2 separate regions of the Homo sapiens genome follow, and region 2 is linked to region 1. Evidence: fine-mapped expression QTL. Tissue or cell type: testis. Region 1 holds a variant in brackets; the other region holds the start of a gene. All regions are shown on one strand. Distances are from middle to middle.

Evidence for each region. PIP is the estimated chance that this variant, and not a neighbour inherited with it, causes the effect. A credible set is the group of variants that fine-mapping cannot tell apart.
Region 2: LINC02395 starts here. The variant in region 1 is the best candidate, but not a certain one, in a credible set for the expression of LINC02395 in testis (GTEx, PIP 0.74).

The regions. Positions count from the first base shown.
Region 1 is chr12:49,916,439-49,926,729 of GRCh38, forward strand. LINC02395 (long intergenic non-protein coding RNA 2395) reads left to right here. Exons shown (of 6, transcript NR_110048.1): 2 at 5,488-7,243; 3 at 7,344-8,075; 4 at 8,498-8,649; 5 at 8,824-8,950; 6 at 9,643-9,901. Among named protein-coding and RNA genes, the nearest start is that of LINC02395, 9.6 kb to the left of the region's middle. The variant T/C (reference allele first, on the strand shown) is at 4,550.
Region 2 is chr12:49,905,366-49,915,065 of GRCh38, forward strand. LINC02395 (long intergenic non-protein coding RNA 2395) reads left to right here and starts at 6,588. Exons shown (of 6, transcript NR_110048.1): 1 at 6,588-6,718. LINC02396 (long intergenic non-protein coding RNA 2396) reads right to left here and starts at 6,498. Exons shown (of 2, transcript NR_146570.1): 1 at 6,449-6,498; 2 at 3,517-3,748.

The sequences.
Region 1 (10,291 bases):
GAATTGATAATCTAGATCTGTTCTGTCCAATGTGGTAGCCACTAGCCACGTGTGGTTAGTCAGCACTTAATATTCAGCTAGTCCAAGTTGAGATGTGCTATCAATGTGAAATGCACGCTGGATTTCAAAGACAGTATGAAAAGCAGATACAAACTATCTTATTTATAATTTTATATTGATTACATGTTGAAGTGATCGCATTTTAGGTATGTTGGGTTAAATAAAATGTTATTAAAATTAACTTTACCTGTTCTTTATATATTTTTTTATGTGACTATTAAAATTTATTTATTTATTTATTTATTTATTTATTTATTTATTTATGGAGATGGCCTTGCTCTGTCACCCGGGCTGGAGTGCACTGGCATGGTCACAGCTCACTGCAGCTTTGACCTCTCTGGCTCCAGTGATCCTCCTACCCCAGTCTCCCGAGTAGCTGGGACTACAGGCACATGCCACCATGTCCAGCTAATTTTTTTTTTTTTTTGTATTTTTTGTAGAGGCAGGATCTCTCAATGTTGCCCAGGCTGGTCTCGAACTCCTGGGCTCACGTGACCTGCCCGCCTCAGCCTCCCAAATTTCTGGGATTACAGGCCTGAGCCACCACGCCCAGCCCAAAACAAGTTAAATTATGTGTGTAACTCACATTTATGTCTCATGTTATTTTTCTTTCTGTTGAACTATGCTGATCTAGACTGAACCATTCCCCACTCTCTGGAGGGCAAACCCACAGGGCGATGTTATGGGGAGACTCGGATGGGAGGGACTGTGACATGTGGGAGAAGGATCAATCCAGACCAGGCTGGAGACAGGAGGAATGTGAGGGGGCTGCACAACTAAGCCTGACCAGGCTCCTGGGAAGAGGGGCGCGTGGAGCAGATATTTTCTCCTCCACTCTCATATTTCCCTGTTAATAGACTGTGAGCAACCTGGGAGAAATAAGACCGTGCTTTATTCATCGCCACGCCCTCGGGGCCAAACGCAGCGCCTGCCATAGAGCGAGTGCTTGCAAACATGCACTGAATTAATGAGTGAGTGAGGGATAGAATGGGGAGAGAATCCAGACAGCAAAGAACTGTGCTGAGATGGTGCCAGTCCTGCCTGGATGGTTCCAGGGTGCAGGGTGTTTGGAGATTTTAATCCTTAAATCCTTTAGGCTATAATCTCCCAGAGAGCGGGGTGGCCACACTCTATACCCACATATGCACTTCCCAGTAGCTGGAGACAGCTGGGAACAGGCAGTGAGGACACCTGGGGTCATCACATCCAGCCTCCTGCCCCTCTGAGCCCCTTCAAAGGAGTAGATTCTTCTCCCTCCTGCAGGCAGCCTTGGAGCTCCAGCCTGCTCCTTCCCCAAACACAAACACACACACACACACACACACGCCTGGGAGAAACTTCAGTGGGTCTCTCCACACTCAGGCCAGGATGGTAAAGGTTGCCCAGGCAGCCCAGGGAAGGAGGTAAACATGCAGCTGCCTCCACCTGGCCCGGTTCTGCCCGCACTTCAAGCTGGGGCCCTACCCTTGCCTAAGTCATGGGTCAGCGACTCTCAGGAGCACCTTCCTCACACACATTGACTCAAGGTGAGGTACCACAGGCAAGTTTCCACAGTCCTCACCCTTAGCAAGCCTCTTCTGGCCCAGCAGTGGGCAAGGTAGGGATGTGGCAGCATGGGGAGGACCTGTGAAGGCAGAAAAGACACCACAGTGGCTCACATGGATGCACGGTTAGCTCTGTACTCTGAGAGGCAGCCTATTGTACAACATAAGCAGCAGGGCTCTAGAGTTCCTCCACCTGCCCACCTGCTGTGTGTAACCCTGGGTAAGTTAATCAACTTTTTTTTTTTTTTTTGAGATGGGGTCTTGCTTTGCTGCCCAGGCTGGAGTGCAGTGGCATGATCCTGGCTCACTGCAGCCTTGACCTACCGGCCCCAAACAATCCTCCTACCTCAGCGTCCCAAGTAGCTGGGACCACAGTATGCACCGCCACACCTGGCTAGTTATTTTTATTTTAATTTTTTTGTAAAGATCGGGTCTCCCTACATGGGTCAGGCTGGTCTCAAACTCATGGGCTCAAGGGATCTTCCCACCTGGGCCTCCCAAAGTGCTAGGACTACAGGTGTGAGCCGGCACACCCAGCCCACCACTAACTTCTTTAGACCTTGGGTTCCTCCAAAATGGGCACAGTACAAGTCCCCTGCCCATAGCGTGGTTCAGAGATTGACTGAAAACAAATCAAGTTCTTGGAGCAGTGCCTGGCACCTAGTGAGTGTTGGGCATTGGTGATCACCATGACACAGTTTAGTTCCCTTTGCAGTTGGGGAAATGAGGTTCCAAGAGGATCAATTCCTAGAAGCAGTTATAAAGACAAAACGGTTTTACATCATTCAGATTTTTCTTTAACTTTTTATTATGGAAGTTTTCCAACATATATAAAAGTGGAGAGAGTAATATAATAACCCCAGGCGCTCATCACCCCACTTCACTGATTACCAACTCACGGCCAATTGAGCTTCATCTCTAGCCCAGCCATACCCCCTGGGTTCTTTTGAAGCAAATCTCAGACATCGTACCATCTCATCTGTAACTATTTCAGATGCGTCTCTAAGAGAAGAGGACTTTAACAAATAGCTATACTACTATTATTATGCCTAAAAAACTAACAATAATTTAATATTAAATACTTAGTCACTGTTCCAATTCTCCAGTTTTCTCATTTACACAATTGTTCAAATTAGGATTCAGATAAAGTCCATATACTGTATTGCAAATGATTAATGCTTCTTAAGCCTCTCTCTCTCTTTTTTGTTTCTTTTCATGCCTGGCTTAATTTTTTCATTTTTTGTAGAGACGTGGTCTTGCTATGTTGCCCAGGCTGGTCTCAAACTCCTGGCCTCAAGCGATCCTCCCACCTCAGCCTCCCAAAGCACTGGGATTACAGGCATGAGCCACTGTGCCTTAAGGCTCTTTTATTTATTTATTTATTTTTGAGATAGGATCTCACTCTGTCACCCAGGCTGGAGTGCAGTGGCGGGATCTTGGCTCACTGCAACCTCTGCCTCCCAGGTTCAAGCAATTATTGTGCCTCAGCCTCCCAAGTAGCTGGGATCACGGATGTGCACCACCATGTCCAGCTAATTTTTGTGTTTTTAGTAGAGACGGGGTTTCACCATGTTTGCCAGGTTGGTCTCAAACTCCTGACATCATGTGATCTGCCTGCCTCAGGCTCCCAAAGTGCTGGGATCACAGGCGTGAGCCACCGCGCCCGGCCTTAAGTCTCTTTTAAATTATAGGTCCCCTTTTTCTCTTTTTCCACCCTTACAATGTATTTGTTGAGGAAACCAGGTCATTTTTGCTGTAGAATTTCCCAGAGTCTGGAGTTTGATTGCATCCCTAAATCTAGAGGCTTGAAAATCCTATAGTTTTCAAAATAATGAGCGAGTTCCCTAGCATCTCTGAAAGTGATCATTAATTTTTATCATAAACTTATGGATTTACATACATTTGAAATGTTTCAACACATTGCCATTATAGTTAGGGTATTTTGTTTTTCTTTTTTGTCTAGATGGAGTCTTGCTCTGTCATCCAGGCTGGAGTACAATGGCGCAATCTCGGCTCACTGCAACCTCTGCCTCCTGGGTTCAAGCAATTCTCCTGCCTCAGCCTCCCGAGTAGCTGAGATTACAGGCACCCGCCACCACACCCGGCTAACTTTTTGTATTTTTAGTAGAGACGGGGTTTCACCATGTTGCCCAGGCTGGTCTCGAACTCCTGACCTCATGATCTGCCCACCTCGGCCTCCCAAAGTGCTGGAATTACAGCTGTGAGCCATTGCGCCCAGCCAGTTAGGATATTTTTTAAAAATTGTTTTTCCAGCTTAAGTTTAGGGAGTAAGGGTGATTACAAGGGACAACATAGAAAAATTGAGAGAACTCTGGCTTTGGAGGCAAACAACCCGTGGGTGGAATCCTGGCTCCACCACTTACAAGCTGGATGGCTTTGGTCAAGTTACTTCACTTCTCTTTCCTTCTATTTCCCCACCCCCCGATAAGGAAATGATTAATAATAACTAACATTTCCTGAGTGCTTACTGTCTTCCAGGCATCGTGCTCAGCGTCTTAAAGACATGATGGCAATTTAATCCTCCTATCAGTTCAGTGAAGCAGGAGTCGTTATTATTGTCCCCACTTTAGAGATGAGGAAGAAACTGAAGCACAGGTGGTTGAGCAATTTGTCCAAGGTTACACACCTAGAAAGGGGCGCGGCAGGGACCTGAACCGGGGCAGTCTGACTCCACAGCCCACTGTCCTCTAGCGGTTGTTGTGGAGAAGAGAGAGGGTGATGGTGATGCCCTCCTGCAGGCCCTGATAGATGGGAAGACCAGGCCAGAAGGTGAGCAGGGCCGTCCCTGGCACTTCCCCTCAGGGATGGAGCACAGTCAAGCCTGGCGTGTGGGGGGTGCAACCCCTATTGCAGCTGCAGTCTCTCCCCTTCCCCAGACTCCCCCCTCACCTGCTGTGACCCAGACCCTTGCATAAGAACACAGC[T/C]GTTCTTGGTGAGTTCTGTTTCCATTGCCATTATGGTTCTCCTCCTAATTGTTTCATTAATCAGAAAGGGCTGATCAATGCTGGGAGGCCAAGGTGGGAGGATTGCTTAAGGCCAGGAGTTCAGCCTGGGCAACGTAGTGAGACCCTTCACCTCTACCCCCGCCTCTACCAAAAATTAAATAAATACAATTAGCTAGGCGTGGTGGCACATGCCTGTGGTTCCAGCTACTCAGGAGGCTGAGGAGGGAGGATTGCTTGAACCCAGGAGGTCAGGGCTGCAGTGAGCTGTGTTCTTACCACTGCACTCCAGCTTGTGTGACAGAGCAAAATCCTCTTGTAGTTGTGGGTGGGGGGGCGGTAGGCAGGGTGCAGGGAAAGAGAGAGAGAAGGAAGGAAGGAAGGGAGAAAGAGAGAGACAGAGAAAAAGAAAGAAGAAAGGAAAAGAAAGAAAGAAGAAAGGAAAGAAAGAAAGAGACGGAGAGAGGAAAGAAGGAAGGAAAAAAAGGAAGGAAGGAAGGAAAGAGGGAGAGAGAGAAACAGAGAAAAAGAAAGAAGAAAAAGAAAGAAAGAAAGAAAGAAAGAAAAAGAAAGAAAGAAAGGAAAAGAAAAGAAAGGAAAAGGAAGGAAGGCGGGAGGAAAGAAGGAAAAAAGGAAGGGAGGGAGGGAGGGAAAGAGAGAGAAAGGGCTGACTGCAGGAAATCTCCCCATCCCCATGCTTCTCCAGAATCAGCTGGCCTGGGGGGTCCTTGGGTCACCTTAGAGGGCAGAGATCCTGAGTGCAGTTGGGCAGAGTGAGGTATTGATAGGAACACTAAGGATAGTACTAACAGTCATCATTTACACCTCGTGTGTGCCAGGAAGGGGCCAGGTCCCACATGATCTCAGTTCATCTTTACAACACCCTGAAGGATGGTCTTGTTATCTTCTCCATTTTGCAGATGAGGAAACTGAGGCTGAGAGGGTAGAGAACTTTGCCTGAGGTCACTCAGCAGGTAGGTGGTGGAGCCAGGGGTGTAACCCGGGCTGCGGGCCTCCACATCAGATACAGACAGAACAGGAAGGTGTTGCAGAGGCTGGCGATGCTGCGATTCTCTGGGTAGCAAAGGGAGGGGACATTCCCAGCAGAAGGAACGGTTTGTGTAAAGGTGTGGAGGTGTGATACGGTGTGGCCTGTTCAGGGTGGTGACTAACAGTGGCCAGAGTGAAGGGTGTGTAGAGAGGAGTGCCAGCAGATGAGGCAAGGGGCTGGGGACTGGGGCCAAGGTGGAAGAACTTCAGGTTCCAGGCCAAGGAAATGAACTTTGTCCTTGGGTAGAGGGGTGCCACAGGAGGCATTGAACAAGAGTGCAACCTTGGGTTTGTATGGTGAGCCTCCAGCAATACCTTGGCAGGTGGGATCCTCATGTCCACCCCGGGTGCCAGCCACATTTTACAGGCTGGGAAACAGAATGGTTATGAGACCGGCTCAGACCACACAGCAATAGACAACTGGCCCCAAGCCAGTTCTCTCGTTGTCACAGGACGTTGCTTCGAAACTCAGGTCATAGTGAGAAAGGCAGGGGCATCCTTCCGTTCCTCACTTCTCCAGCCCTGTGCCTGCTCAGCTCACTGGAGAACGTGAAATGAAGATCAACTGGACCGAGGCCCAGGCATATCTGCTCACCAAGAATAAGACAGAAAACAATAAAAGCAAATCATGGAGCTCCAGCTATGTGCTAGGCACTGGGCTGGGAGGAAACTAAACAGAGAACAACAGTGCCAGGCACTCTCTCTGATAATGAGTGTTCTGGACTGAGGGTCCCCCAGACTGGCCTAGGAGGTGCTGTCCAATCCGCCTGAAGAGCTGGAATGGGCTCCAAGTGGAGAGAACTGTGGGATTGCTGGCTCAGCCCCCAACTATGCAGTGACCTTGGACGGAGCGGGCCCTCTGGGAGCCTTGGCAAGCCAGTTGCTAAGAGGGGAGACTGCACCAGAGAAGGGATTTTTAATATATGAAACCTTGGGGAGCTCCTCAAGCTGACTCGGGAGGTCTGGGGTAGGGACTCTGATTGGGGTGTTTTGACAAGTTCCACCGGAAACTCGGAAAGCACACCTGGTTAGAAATAACTAGATGATCAAGGTCCTTCCAGATTCAGTTCAACAAATTCAACACAACACATGTTTACTGAGCACACACCATGCCAGGTGCCATTCTGCAATGTTAGGATACATCAGTGAGCAAAATAACAAAAAGTTCTAGAAGTTAGAGATACTGTGGACAGGGGAAAGCGGTGCTAGGCAAGGTGGTGAGGAGGGCAGGGATGTGGCAGTTCCAGGACTCAGCAGGATGGGCAGGGCTGGCCTTGTTGAGAAGGAGACTGGAAAAAGCAAGGGAGCCAACTGAGTGACATTTGGGGGAAGAGCATTCCAAGCAGTCAACAGCAAGAGCAAAGGCCCTGACAGGGAGCACGCAGGCAGGGTGGCCAGCGTGGCTGGAGCGGAGTGGCCAAGGGCTGGGGTGGGGTGAGGGGCAGGGGCCAGCTGTGGAATGCTGCTCCTACGTGCTAGTGTTCTAAGACTCATTCAGCACTGCCCTGAGTATCTTGACTCTGAACCTGTCCCTGCCCTGACCCCTTCCCCAATCAACTTTAATTTTAGGGACCCACCCATCACAGTAAATGCCAGCACTGCTGATGCCAAAACAATGTTATTTGTGTAAGTATGTGTTTTGTATTTTACCGCCTTAATCCTGTCTTCAACCTCTCCTCTTCTGTCCCACCCAAGTATCTGCCCTTCCTTTCTTGACTCCTTCCAGAGGCCCTCGGAATTTGTGACCTGAAGGAAGAAGAGCAGGGCCGTGGGAAGTATGTAACCAGTGTCATGCCCCTGGTCCCAAGGAAGCAGTGGCTTGGTAAAGAGGGGACCCCCGTCAATAACTCCCTGTAATTACTGGGCACCCACTCTGAGCTCCTCAGTGGAATCCTAAGGTTAATAAGACTGTCTCTAGCCACTGGGGCTCCCAGCCTGGAGTGAGGTAAGAGGAGTGGAGCCGGCTGGGGAGGGAGACGAACACATACACAGAAGATTCAGACACACTTGCAATGTATTGCTGGGGATTCTCCAGCATTGGCATGATGGAGAGGGTGGAGAATCATTTGACCGCCTCCGCCTAGGATTGCAGAGTTCAGCTGGCCATCATCCACCAGCCGGGGGACTGTGCACATCAGTTAACCTCTCCTCTCAGGCCTTGAAAAGCACCAGGCTTAGTACACGTTTGTTAAATGAATGCACTGCAGTTTTTTTGCTTGTTAAAGGCAGGTAATAATAATGATATTGCTGACTAAGGGCTCCCATCCACTCCCAGTGAGCCCGGTGCCCCCCCGGGCCTCCTCAGTGAGCTGAGGAGGCTCAGCAGTGCCTGCACGTCCCCTCGCCACAATGTCATGTGCCACCTCTTCAAAGGAGGGATGTACCAGCTAGTGGACGTGACCTTGACTGCAAAGGGCGGCACGCAGCTGATGTAATGGTCGCTTAAGTGTTCACAAATGTAAGTCATTACTATTATAAGTGGTGGGTGATCAAGTGGCTAGGGGTGCCATCTTTAGCAAATAAAAATATAGGACGCACAGTTAAATTTGAATTTCAGATAAGAATTTCTTAGCATAAGTATGCCCTATGCAATATTTGGGACACATTTATATCAAAAAAAACTCAATATTTATCTGAAATTCAAATGTAACTGTGTGTCCTAGATTTTATCTGGCAGCCTTATTGATGGTGGCTTATTGACTGGCTGGGAATGACAGGGGTGTAGGCCAGGAAATGGCTCTGTGAAGGCTGCCTAGAACTGAATCGAACATGAGGATGAGTCAGTGTCAAGACTCCCAGTGGGGCCATCGGATCATTACTGCATGATCGTCTTAAGCCTTTGTTAGTGAATCCCTCAGACTCACGCCTTCTTCTCTCCAGGCCTGAACACCCTGTCCTACCTGGTCCTACCTGGATGCTGGCCTCAGTAAGCTCCTGGGCTCATTGAAGATGAACCTAGCAGTAGTATTTACACCACTTGTTGTGTGCCCACTGTGGGCCCGGCGCCATGCCGAGTGCTCTATGGATGTGAGGTAATGAAGCTGCATGGGTGGGATTCAAATGCAGGGTGGTCTGACCCCAGGGCCAAGATCTCTTTCTATTGCACCATGCTATGGCCTGATCAAAGACTCAAGCATCTAGGACAGAGAAAGAGGGAGCAGGAGGGGACACAGAATATCCTAAAGTGGCCTCCTACTGTGTCCCAGGCACTGTGTTAGGATTCACTGAGTTGTCACAAAAATCCTGCAAAGTTCATTCTCGAGGACGCTCTGGAATTTAAATACCTTGCCAAGATCATACAGATTAAGTGGTGGAGCAGGGATTTGAACGGAGGTCTGTCTCACTGCAAAGCCCAAGTAATTTTGCCCCCTTTTGTGTGTATGCATCCTGGGATGATGTGTGCATGCATGTGTGTGTGTATGCGTGTGTGCGTGCATGTGTGCATGTGTGTGTGTATATGCGTGCATGTGTGTGTATGTGTGTGTGCATGTGTGTGCATGCGTGCATGTGTGTGTGTATCGTGCATGTGTGCATATGCGTGCATGTGTGTGTGTGTGTGTGCATGTGTGTGTTCCTACAGTCACATCCCACCTTCGGAGTGGCGCTTTCCGGTCCTACCCAGCCCTTCCTCTCTTGGGATGGGTCTAGGGCCTTGGAGGTGATTAGACTCTAGTGGTGCTGGCACAGGGCTGGCTTTCTCAGCATATTTCAGGGGACTGTGTCCTCTGCCTGCTGTCCCCCAATCAGTAGCTTCTCTTGGGACTTGCCCTCCCCTGCCAGGGCTAAGGTCTGGTTGGTTCCCAGGCCCCTGGGCCTTGGACAGGGGAGCTGGGGGGTGAGGGGTGGTGGATGGTGGGAGAGGGCAGGACCGGCAAAGAAGAGACTGACAAATACCATGGATGTCTCATTTTCAGTTCCTGCTCTGTCACTCCCACACACTTGCTCTCTGCAATCCCTAGAATCAAACAGTATTCAAACTGGAAGAGGCCTTAGAAAATAACTGGTCTTCTCTACTCATTCTACAGAGAAACGGAGGCCCAGAAAGCAGAAATGATGTGTTAAGATCACTCATCAAGCTGATGGTACAGAGGTTAGAGCCTCTGCTCCCTGCTCTACCTCTTTCCCTTACTCCACATCCATGCCTGTCTCTTCCAATGGGTCGGCATCCACCCTGACACATTAAAGCCAAAAGGAACCTTAAGCTAGGGAAGGGGCTCCAGAACTTTAGTGAAAGATTCAAACATGTCCACTCAACTCAATGGAGAAAATACAATATTCAATCAATGGTGTTGGGATGCCTGGAATATTGTTGGAGAGGGATCATAAAAATGGAACCAAAACAATTCCATTTGGGTCAAAGATTTAAGTGTCATAAAGCCATGTAAATTCTATAAGGAAGTATGGGTAAATTGATTTACATTTTGGAATAGGAAAGTCTTTCTTTTTTTCCAACTTTTATTTTAGATTTGGGGGATATATGTGCAGGTTTGTTATAAGGCTATACTGCAGGATGCTGGGATTTGGGGTACAATCAAACCCATCACCCACATAGCATAGTGGGAAGGCTTTTCTAATCAGGATGGAAAACCCAGAGTCATACAGGAAAAGACTAATACATTCAACCACATAAAAAAATTTTAAACTTCTGTATGGAAAACCACCATAGAAATGTTT
Region 2 (9,700 bases), 11 kb before region 1:
CTCCTGAGTAGCTGGGATTACAGGCGCGCACCACCACGCCCGGCTAATTTTGTATTTTTAGTAGAGACAGGGTTTCACCATGTTGGCCAGGCTGGTCTCCAACTCCTGACCTCAAGTGATCCACCCTCCTCAGCCTCCCAAAGTGCTGGGATTACAGGTGTGAGCCACCGTGCCTGGCCTAATTATCAAAGTCTTTATCCCACCCCTTTTTGCCCTTTGTCCCCCACTCCATAACCACCAATTTTGCACAAACACACTTAAGCCTGGGCCTCCGTGTCCAGAGGCTCTCTCAACCCTACAAACCCGAGCTCTTCTTCCAGCAAGCTGTGCCCTGGTCCCCAGCACTGCACCTGGAGCTCTGACCAGCTGGTCCAGGTTCTGGCCTTCCCTCCTTCTCTGCATCTGCATCCTGGAAGTGTTTTCCTTCTCCTGCTTGACAGCTTGAATGCCACCTCCTCCAGGAAGCCTCCTTCCCCCCCTAGTTGGGGTTAGATGCTCCTCTTCTGTAGTTCCCTAGCACCCTGATGTAACGCCTGTCACGTGGCGCTGTGAAGTTTCTTTGACTGACTCCCTGTTACACTCTAAGCTCCTGTAGCAGTTTTGGTGTGAGCTGGACTGAATGCAGTGCCAGGTGTGTGGAATGCACTCCATCAATTGTAGCTAGTAATATTTCCCAGACATGGCACTACGCAGAGCCTGACTTTCATCAGCCTTAGCACTTTCATGTTTGTGAATCACTCCTGTTCCTTCTCTCGCATTCACTCTGCTCCAGCCACACAGGCCTCTTGGCCATTCCTTAGACTGGGCTGAGCATGCGCTTAGCTGAGGCCCTTTGCACTGGCTGTGTCTTGTTTGGAAATTCTACAGATCATTGCGTGGCTCCCTCCCTCACTAACTTCACTACTCTGCTCAGACATTATCTCAGGGGTGGTCTTCCTGATCTTATACAAAGTAGCAGTGCCACCCGCATACCCCCACCCAGCAAATTGGACAGTCCCTTTTTTCTGATTAAGCTTTATGTTTTCTATGTCAATTGTCACCTCTGACATGTTTTGTTTTGTTTTGTTTTGTTCTCTCTCTCTCTCCCATTAGAACGTCAGCTACAGAAGAGGAGGAGTTTGGGGGTGTTGTGTCATTGCTTTACACCTGTGGGTTAAAATAGTGACTGACATGGATGTGGTGGGTTGATAAGTATTTGGTTGAGTAAAGTACAGCATTATACAAAATCCTTATATTCCTCAGACATGTTGACATTGTCAGTGCTATGATGTTTCTCAGATGTTGGACTCTATTACCTTGACATTGTGTATATGTCCCCCCAACTTTTTTTTGAGACAGGGTCTCGCTGTGTTGCCTAAGCTGGAGTGCAGTGGTATGATCATGGCTTGTTACAGTCTGAATTTCTGGGCTCAAGCATCCTCCTGCCTCAGCCTCCCAAGTAACTAGGGTATATGTTCCCATGAGGTGGTCTTTGGATATTACTCAAAAAAATTTTTGTTTTGAGGTGTAGTTTTGCTCTTGTTGCCCAGGCTGGAGTGCAGTGGCACGATCTCAGCTCACTGCAACCTCCGCCTCCCAGGTTCAAGCGATTCTCCTGCCTCAGCTTCCTGAGTAGCTGGGACTACAGGCGCACACCACCACGCCTGGCTACTTTTCCTATTTTTGGTAGAGACAGAATTTCACCACGTTGGCCAGGCTGGTCTCGAACTCCTGACCTCAGGTGATCTGCCCGCCTCAGCCGCCCAAAGTGCTGGGATTACAGGCATGAGCCACCGTGCCCAGCTGACATTACTCAAATATTAAACATTCGTGTAACATTCCTCTGGGATCTGGTGATAGTTAGGTGTGGTAGTCAAAAGCCAAGGCTACACAGTCAAGCAGCTTTGCTCCAGATCCCGGCTCCTCTATTTAAAAGCTGTATGAGAGCTTGTGAGAGATGAGTTGTGAAAGTTGTGAGAATGAGGAGAGTTAGGATTTGTAAGGCACTTAGAACAGAACCAGGCATCTAACACATGCTCTATGCATGTTTGATGACTATAAGCACACAATAAGCTCTTGGTGTTAGCTATTAGTGTTAGCCTTAAGGGTTCCACAAATATTGTTTAATGAAATAATTTCCACCACATAAGGCAGCTCAGTTCCACAGTTACTCATTTGTTCATTCATTTGTCATGTCTGTGGTCTCTGTCCCTGTTGACACATTTGGTAGAAGCCATTCTTCAAGAAGAATGAGATCCCTTCAGACTCACCCCCGGGCAGGAGGGGACAGGCAGTGCTGGGGTGGCTGAGGGCTGGGAGAATAGTGCCTCAAGGGAGTCAGAAACAGTAAGGGGCTCCCCAGGGGAGCTGGGGAGGTTGTTGGGGTAACATCCTCAAATCTCCACCCCATGATAGGCTTTATTCTGTTTGTACAAGGCGGGAAAGTAATGGGGAGTTTCAAGCTTTATTTTATTTTATTATTTATTTAATTTTTGAGACAGAATCTCACTCTATCGCCCAGGCTGGAATGCAGTGGCACAATCATGGCTCACGTCAGCCTCAACCTCCCAGGCTCAAGCGATCTTCCCATCTTACCCTCCCAAGTAGCTGGGACTACAGGCCTGCACCACCATGCCTGGTTAATTTTATTTTTTGTACAGACAAGATCTCACTATGTTGTCCAGGCTGGCCTCGAACTCCTGGGCTCAACCGATCCTTTTACCTCGCTCTCCCAAAGGCTGGGATTACAGGAGTAAGTCACTGTGCCTGGCCTCAAGGTTTTATTGAACATGGAAATGACGTGTTTAAAGTCATGCTTCAGAAAGACCAACCAGGCCAAGCGCAGTGGCTCATGCTTGTAATCCCAGCACTTTGGGAAGCCAAGGTGGATGGATCACCTGAGGTCAGGAGTTCGAGACCAGCCTGATCAACATGGCGAAACCCCGTTTCTACTAAAAATAAAAAAAAATTAGCTGGATGTGGTGGCACATGCCTGTAATCCCAGCTACTCGGGAGGCTGAGGCAGGAGAATCGCTTGAACCTGGGAGGCAGAGGTTGCAGTGAGCCAAGATTGCACTGCTGCACTCTAGTCTGAGCAATAAGAGTGAAACTCAGCCTCAAAAAAAAAAAAAAAAAAAAAAAAGATAAGAAAGACCAACCTCTGTAGTAATTTTTGCTATTACATTGTTTTCTCTTTTTTTCTTTTTTTTTTTTTTTTGAGGTGGAGTCTCACTCTCTCACCCAGGCTGGAGTGCAGTGGTGCGATCTCCGCTCACTGCAACCTCTGTCTCCTGGGTTCAAGCGATTCTCCTGCCTCAGCCTCTCAAGTAGCTGAGATTATAGTCACCACCATCATGCCCAGCTAATTTTTGTATTTTTAGTAGAGACGGGGTTTCACCATGTTTGCCAGGCTGGTCTCGAACTCCTGACCTCAGGTGATCCACCCACCTTGGCCTCCCAAAGTGCTGGGATTACAGGCGTAAGCCACCACGCCAGGCCTAATTTTTCTATTTTTAGTAGACGTGAGGTTTCACCATGTTTGCCAGGCTGGTCATTATATTGTTTTATTAAATAAGGAAGAAGATTTTGTCTGTGAACATGTGGGAGGGATGGAGAGAGGAAGAGATTGAAGGTGCAGCGGTAAGTGGAACTTTAGTGATGGCTCTTGTGGAGGGTCAGAGCCCGGCTCTGGAGCAGGCTGCGTGGGTCCCAATCCTGGCCCTGCACAAGACGCTTGACTTCTCTGTGCCTCAGTTTCATCCTCTGTAAACTGAAGGTTGTGAGAATGAGGAGAGTTAGGATTTGTAAGGCACTTAGAGCAGAGCCAGCCATCTAACACATGCTGTAAACATGTTTGATCACTAGAAAATAAGACACGTGATCCAGGGGCAGAAAAGATGGAGAAAAGGGACAGCATGGGACAGGACCGACAGGACTTGGGAAGACAGTAGAAGTGAGAGAAAGGCAGAAGGGGCATCAAAAAGGGCAAAGGTGTGAAGACTGAGTCCCTGGGAGAATGATACCATTATGAAAAGGGAAAGGAGCTGAGGTGCTTGGGCGGGGGTCAGGTTGAGTTTGAGGGCCTGTAGGACATCCAGGTGGAGATGTCCTGTAGGCAGTTGGCCAGAGGTTCCTGGTGCCCAGGAGAGAGGTCCGGGCAAGGCCTCCTCCCTGCGCAGCCCCAGGAGGCACCATGCACTGTGTTCAGGGGGAGGACCACATCCCTTCCCGCCCTGGGGCCCAGCCCTGGGGCCCATGGAGTTGAGTGCTGGGCTGGTGGTGGAGGTGTGGGACTCCTTAGCTCATTAGCATGCAGACAGTGGCTGAACCCTGGAGTCAGTGAGCACCCCCACTGCAGAGTGAGGCCAAGGAGAGAAGAAGGGGATGAGTGGATCCCAGGCAGCAGCTATGAGCAGGAGAAGATGGAAGGAAGTCCTGTCCTCTCTGTAGAATTCCCCCTGCCATCTTCATCACGAGGCTGCTGTGACCGTGGAGAGGCAAAGACCAGCCGGGAATATTTTCAGGGCTGCTCTGAGGGGAGCGAAGGTCTGGCCGCAGGCATTGCCTCTCTCCTCCTTCCAGGCCCACGCCATGGCAGTCCCTCCCACTCCGCAGTCTGCTTTTGTTGCCAGCTCTGTCTGGGGCAAGTGTGGGTTGGCGGTGGGGAGGGGCAAAGGTGTGGGCGGAGGCAACTTCTCATTTTACAGATGTGGAAGCACAAGGCCAAAGAGGTTGAGTGACTAACACGAGGTTACATGACACGTTGGGGCCGAGGCCGGTGAGAAGAATGCATTTGACCCCGCGTAGGCACCATCAGCTCAAGAGGGTTTCAGCGACAACACTGAGGCTGGGAGTCGGGGAGGAGTTGGGAGGGTCTCAGACCTCCTAGGTGGGTAGAATCAGAGCTATCCAGGCGCCTCTCCCCAGATTCTCACCAATAACCCCCTGACACACAGACCCGCACACCCAGCCTGCACCACTCTCTGCCTCCTCACCGTGCAAGAAAAGAGAGAACCTGTGCTTTTGAGGCCAGTGATGGGGGCGCAGAGGCAGGGGCTAGACAAGGCCCAGCTCACCCACAGTAAGAAGGTTCTCAGGTTGGGCCACAAGAGGTGAATGGGCCAGGCCAGCTCAGGCATCAGGCTGCTTGCTCCCTCCTGGGTATAGCCGGGCCTCAGCTGTGGCAGCCTTTCACACCCTTCAAAGCCTGCCATCACCCTGCAGGCCCCTGGCCCCTACCCTTCTCACTGTTCTTCACAGGGGTTCTTCCTGCCTCTCTCATCCCCAGCAGCCCCACAGCAAAGAACCTGACACTCCTGTGCTGACCAGCCAGAGGCTGGTTGCAAAACCCCTCTCTGCTGCAGTCCTACTCCTGCCTCCCCATGCCCCTCACACTGTGCCTCTCCAGATATGGTCTCCAAAACGCGGGACAAGAAGCCGAAGCCTCGGGCAGGCATCGGCATTCTGAGTCGCCATGCTTCCCAGCTGCAGGAATTGCTGGGTCAGGTGTGAAACCACATTTCTGTCCCTCCTCATCTCTGTCTCACCTCCCCTGCTCCCCACACCTGGGCTTTGCTGGGAGTTGGGGCTGAGGCTGGAGCAGTCCTCACTGAGCACAGAAGAGCCAGGCCCCAGGCTTGTCATCCCAGCCTCACATTCCAAAACTCTCAGCCGCATCAGCTCACTCCTTGGTAGGCCTGGCACAGGCCCTCTGCACGTTAGAATAACACAAAAAAATCAAGTTTTCAGGTAACTAAAGTTCTAGGCCAGGCTTAGCCCCTCCCTTGCAGCAGGCCCTCGAAAAGTCAGTTCTTTCCCCAGGGTCTCACGGGTTCTGTTGCCATCGCATGTGCCGCTATGTGCATACATTTCCGTTTCTCCACCAGATGGAAAGTGCCTTAAAGATATGGGTTGTGTATCTCAAGCCTTCCTGCTCCATCCCTTGACCTGGTAGAGTTCAATATTGAAGAATACAGGGTTTGGGGTCAGATCAATCTGGGTGCCAATTCTGACTCTCCCAGTTACTAGATGATTGACCTTAGGTAAATCTGAGCCTCAGTTTCCTCATCTTTACAATGGGTATCCATGAACTGATTTACTTATTCAAACAATATTTATGAGGGCCAACTCCATGTCAAACACTGATGTGTGTACAACAGTGACCACAACAGACACAAATCCCGGCCCTGTGGGGTTACTTCTTAGTGGAGACTATTGGTGCCTGGCCCAGAGAGTGATTGTGAAAACTCAGTGAGATGACATTTGGACAGGGCTCAGCACATACGTCATATGTCAGCCTGGCATACGACAGGCCTGACAAGTTAGAGCCATTATTGTGAACATCCATTCTGAACCACAGAACCATTTGCTGAGAATTTACTGTGTGCCGGCACCATGCTAGGTGCTAGGGAGACAAAGACGTGGAACTCTCATCCACACCCTCAAGGAACTTATAGTCGAATGCACCTACCGAATGTCAAATGCCACCATCCTCATCATTGTTCAGAAGCTTATAACCAGCACCAACTTGTATTACATGCAACAAAGAACCATGACATTCTAGAATGTCAGGTACAACAGAGACAGCTGTTTGTCCCCCAGTATCCTTCAGACAAAGCCATATATGATTGAAGGTTATCAGTACTGTGCTTTTGGAGGATTCAGAAGAAGTTATATCTGATTGGGAGATTGAAAAGGATTGGCCTGAAGGAGAGGTGGTTTTTGAACTGCATCTTAAAGGGTAGGCTTCAACAGACAAGAGACAGTGATGTTGGGGGAGGAGAATGAGGCCCTGCAGGGGACCAGAATGGTGTGCAAATGAAGGCGTGGAGGAAGGAAAACATGAGGCGCCAACTTTGAGCTGAATCCTAGGAAGAAGGTGGCCTAGCCCAGAGTGAGGTTGGAGGCTGATCCAGGCAAAGCAGCTGTATTCACAGGGACAGGAGGCAACTGTCTAAGAGGTGGGGTTTGAGGGACCCCCTTCCCAGCCGTCTACCCTTGGCCGAGACTATAACAGGCTCAATATTCCACCACTAAAAATTCATTTCCTTGAGTAAGCCTCCAGTAGGAGACAGACCATCCCCAGAGGAATAACATGAAAGGATAAGTCTGGGCCAAGGAGGGAGTGATGAGGAAAAGACAGCTGGGAACAGCGGAGAGCCAGGCGGGGCCAGGGGCCAGAGCCCTCAACTTGCCAGGCCTCTTGCATTACCCTACTTGTCCAGGCCATCCATACTGACAGAGCACTGCTCGGCTGTGGGAGGCAGGACTGGGTCACTGGAAAGGGGTGGGCAGGTGTCGGTGCTGTGTCCATGACCTCCCTTTGCCTGGCCAGGGCTCCTCAGCCCTTCCTGCTCTGCCTGCGGGACGTGGGCAGGGCCACGTCCACACAGCAATGCCATTTTTCAGTGCAGTTTGGCCCGGCAGCAGTGTGGGTCACTCCTTGTGTGCTTGGGTGGGGACCAGAACTCATTTATTCAACCAAGTGTTTCCAGCCCAGCCTGAGAGTCATGTCGTGAGCTAGGAGAGCAGAAGCAAGCAAGAGACCCCCTCCCCGCCCTCCAGGAGCTCACAGTCTAGAGGGGGAAGCAGGTCTTAAGTAAATAGCCACATGCTGGAGTGCAGAATCACACATGGCGAGTGCCTCAAAGCCAAAGCCCAAGCTGCCTTGTGGAAGAATAACAGGGCAGTAATGCAGATGGGTGGAGGAGCACGTCCGGGGGAGGCCTCCAGCAGCCCCGAGTGATGAGGTGGGGTTGGCGAGGGGATGAGTGTTCTAAACAGAGGGAACACCTGTGCAAAGGCTGTAAGATGGGGAAGTACCTGGGGCATCAGGCAGATCATGCCAGCCTTGTGGACAGGGGAGGGCTTTGGGAAGTTACAGAGTAAGGGAGGTTGAAGGGGTGGGCACCCACTCAGATTGGCCATTTAATTAATTAATTAATTTATTTATTCATTTATTTTGAGACAGTCTCACTCTGTCACCCATGCTGGAGCTGAAGTACAGTGGTACGATCTCAGCTCAGTTCAACCTCCGCCTCCTGGGTTCAAGCAATTCTTGTGGCTCAGCCTCCCGAGTACCTAGGATTGCAGGCATGCACACCATGCCCAGCTAATTTTTGTATTTTTAGTAGAGACAGGGTTTCACCATGTTGCCCAAGCTGGTCTGGAACTCCTGACCTTAAGTGATCCACCTGCCTCAGCCTCCCAAAGTGCTGAGATTACAGGTGTGAGCCACCGCATCCAGCCCAGATTGGCCATTTTAGAAGCCCCCCTGGCTGCAGGACAGAGAAGAGACACGCGGAAGCTACCGCTGCCATTATGGGAGAGGTGATGGTGGCCTGGGCTTGTGTTGGGCATTGAAGGTGGATAAAATTCACAGATTCAGGGGCTGTTTAAGGGGGGATCTGGTGAAGGGCTGCCTGGCGGTAGAAGGTGAGAGAGAGGGAGAGGTTTCCAGCTTGAGTGGACATGAGGAAGACAGAGGAGGGTCCGGCCCATTCCTGGAGGGTTGCCATTGCTAGTGAGTGGCTTTGGCTCCTTCCCAAGCCCCTTCACTCTTGTTTGACTGGGTTGATAATGGTAAGAATTGCTGCCATTTATGCAGCACTTAACATATGCTAGGTCCCATGCTAAGGATGCTACGTGGATTGTTTTGTTTAATCCTCCCAACAGTGGCAGGTCCTCTTTCTCATCTCCATTTTATAGACAGGAAACTGGGACTTAGAGAGGTTAAGTAACTTGCCCAAGGTTGCCTACAACTGGCAGGTGATGGGGCCAGCTGCCCAGCCCTGCAGTCAGCCCCCAGAGCCCAGCTCTCAGCCTCTATGCCGTACTGCTTCAGGAACTTGGGGTCTCAGCCTGCCAGTGAGGTTAGGTGAGGTTAATGGCAGCTCCTTCACTGAGCCAGGAGGCTCCCTGCACGGTGTGAGGTGTGACACGTCCAGGTACTTAACAAGCGCCACATCCCTACCCTTTCTCCCCAGCCAAAGCTGTTTCACAAGCCAGCAGCCTCGTAAATATTTCAGCAGTGTCTGTGTAGTCGAGGCTGTGAAGCCTGTCCTCTGGAGCACTTGTGACAGCGAGATCTGGGAGATGTCTCAGGGCCTGTTGCAAGCGTTTGATCAGCTGCATTTTCAAAAAGACCTTTCCCTGAGCAGCTGACAGTCTCTGGGGTGAAAGAGATTTGCAGACTTTTTCTGGAGAGAGGCCAGAGCATGAGCCGACCCAGGGGCCCAGTTGGAGCCTTTTGGCTGTAGCTGGCCTCAGTCATTCAGTCCACAATGCAGAGAGAACCCCTACTGGGTGGCTGACACTGTGCCAGGCCCCACCCTCAAGATGCTAGAGAAGAGATAGGACAGGCCCAGGTTAAACTCAGTACCAGGCAGGCTGTGGAGTAAGGAAGGACCACAGCAGAGTAAAGCAATGGAGACCGAGGTCTCAGAAACCCTCAGGGAAGTTGGCATTTTAACTGGTCTTTGAAGACCAGGTAAGGCTTTTAAAAATGTATATTAAACAAATTAATTTTTCCCATTATATATGTAGTTAAGACATGTTCATAATTTTTTTTTTTTTTTGAGACAGTCTTGCTCTGTCGCCCAGGCTGGAGTGCAGTGGCGCAATCTCGGCTCACTGTAAGCTCCGCCTCGTGGGTTCACGCCATTCTCCTGCCTCAGCCTCCTGAGTAGCTGGGACTACAGGCACCTGCCACCACACCCGGCTA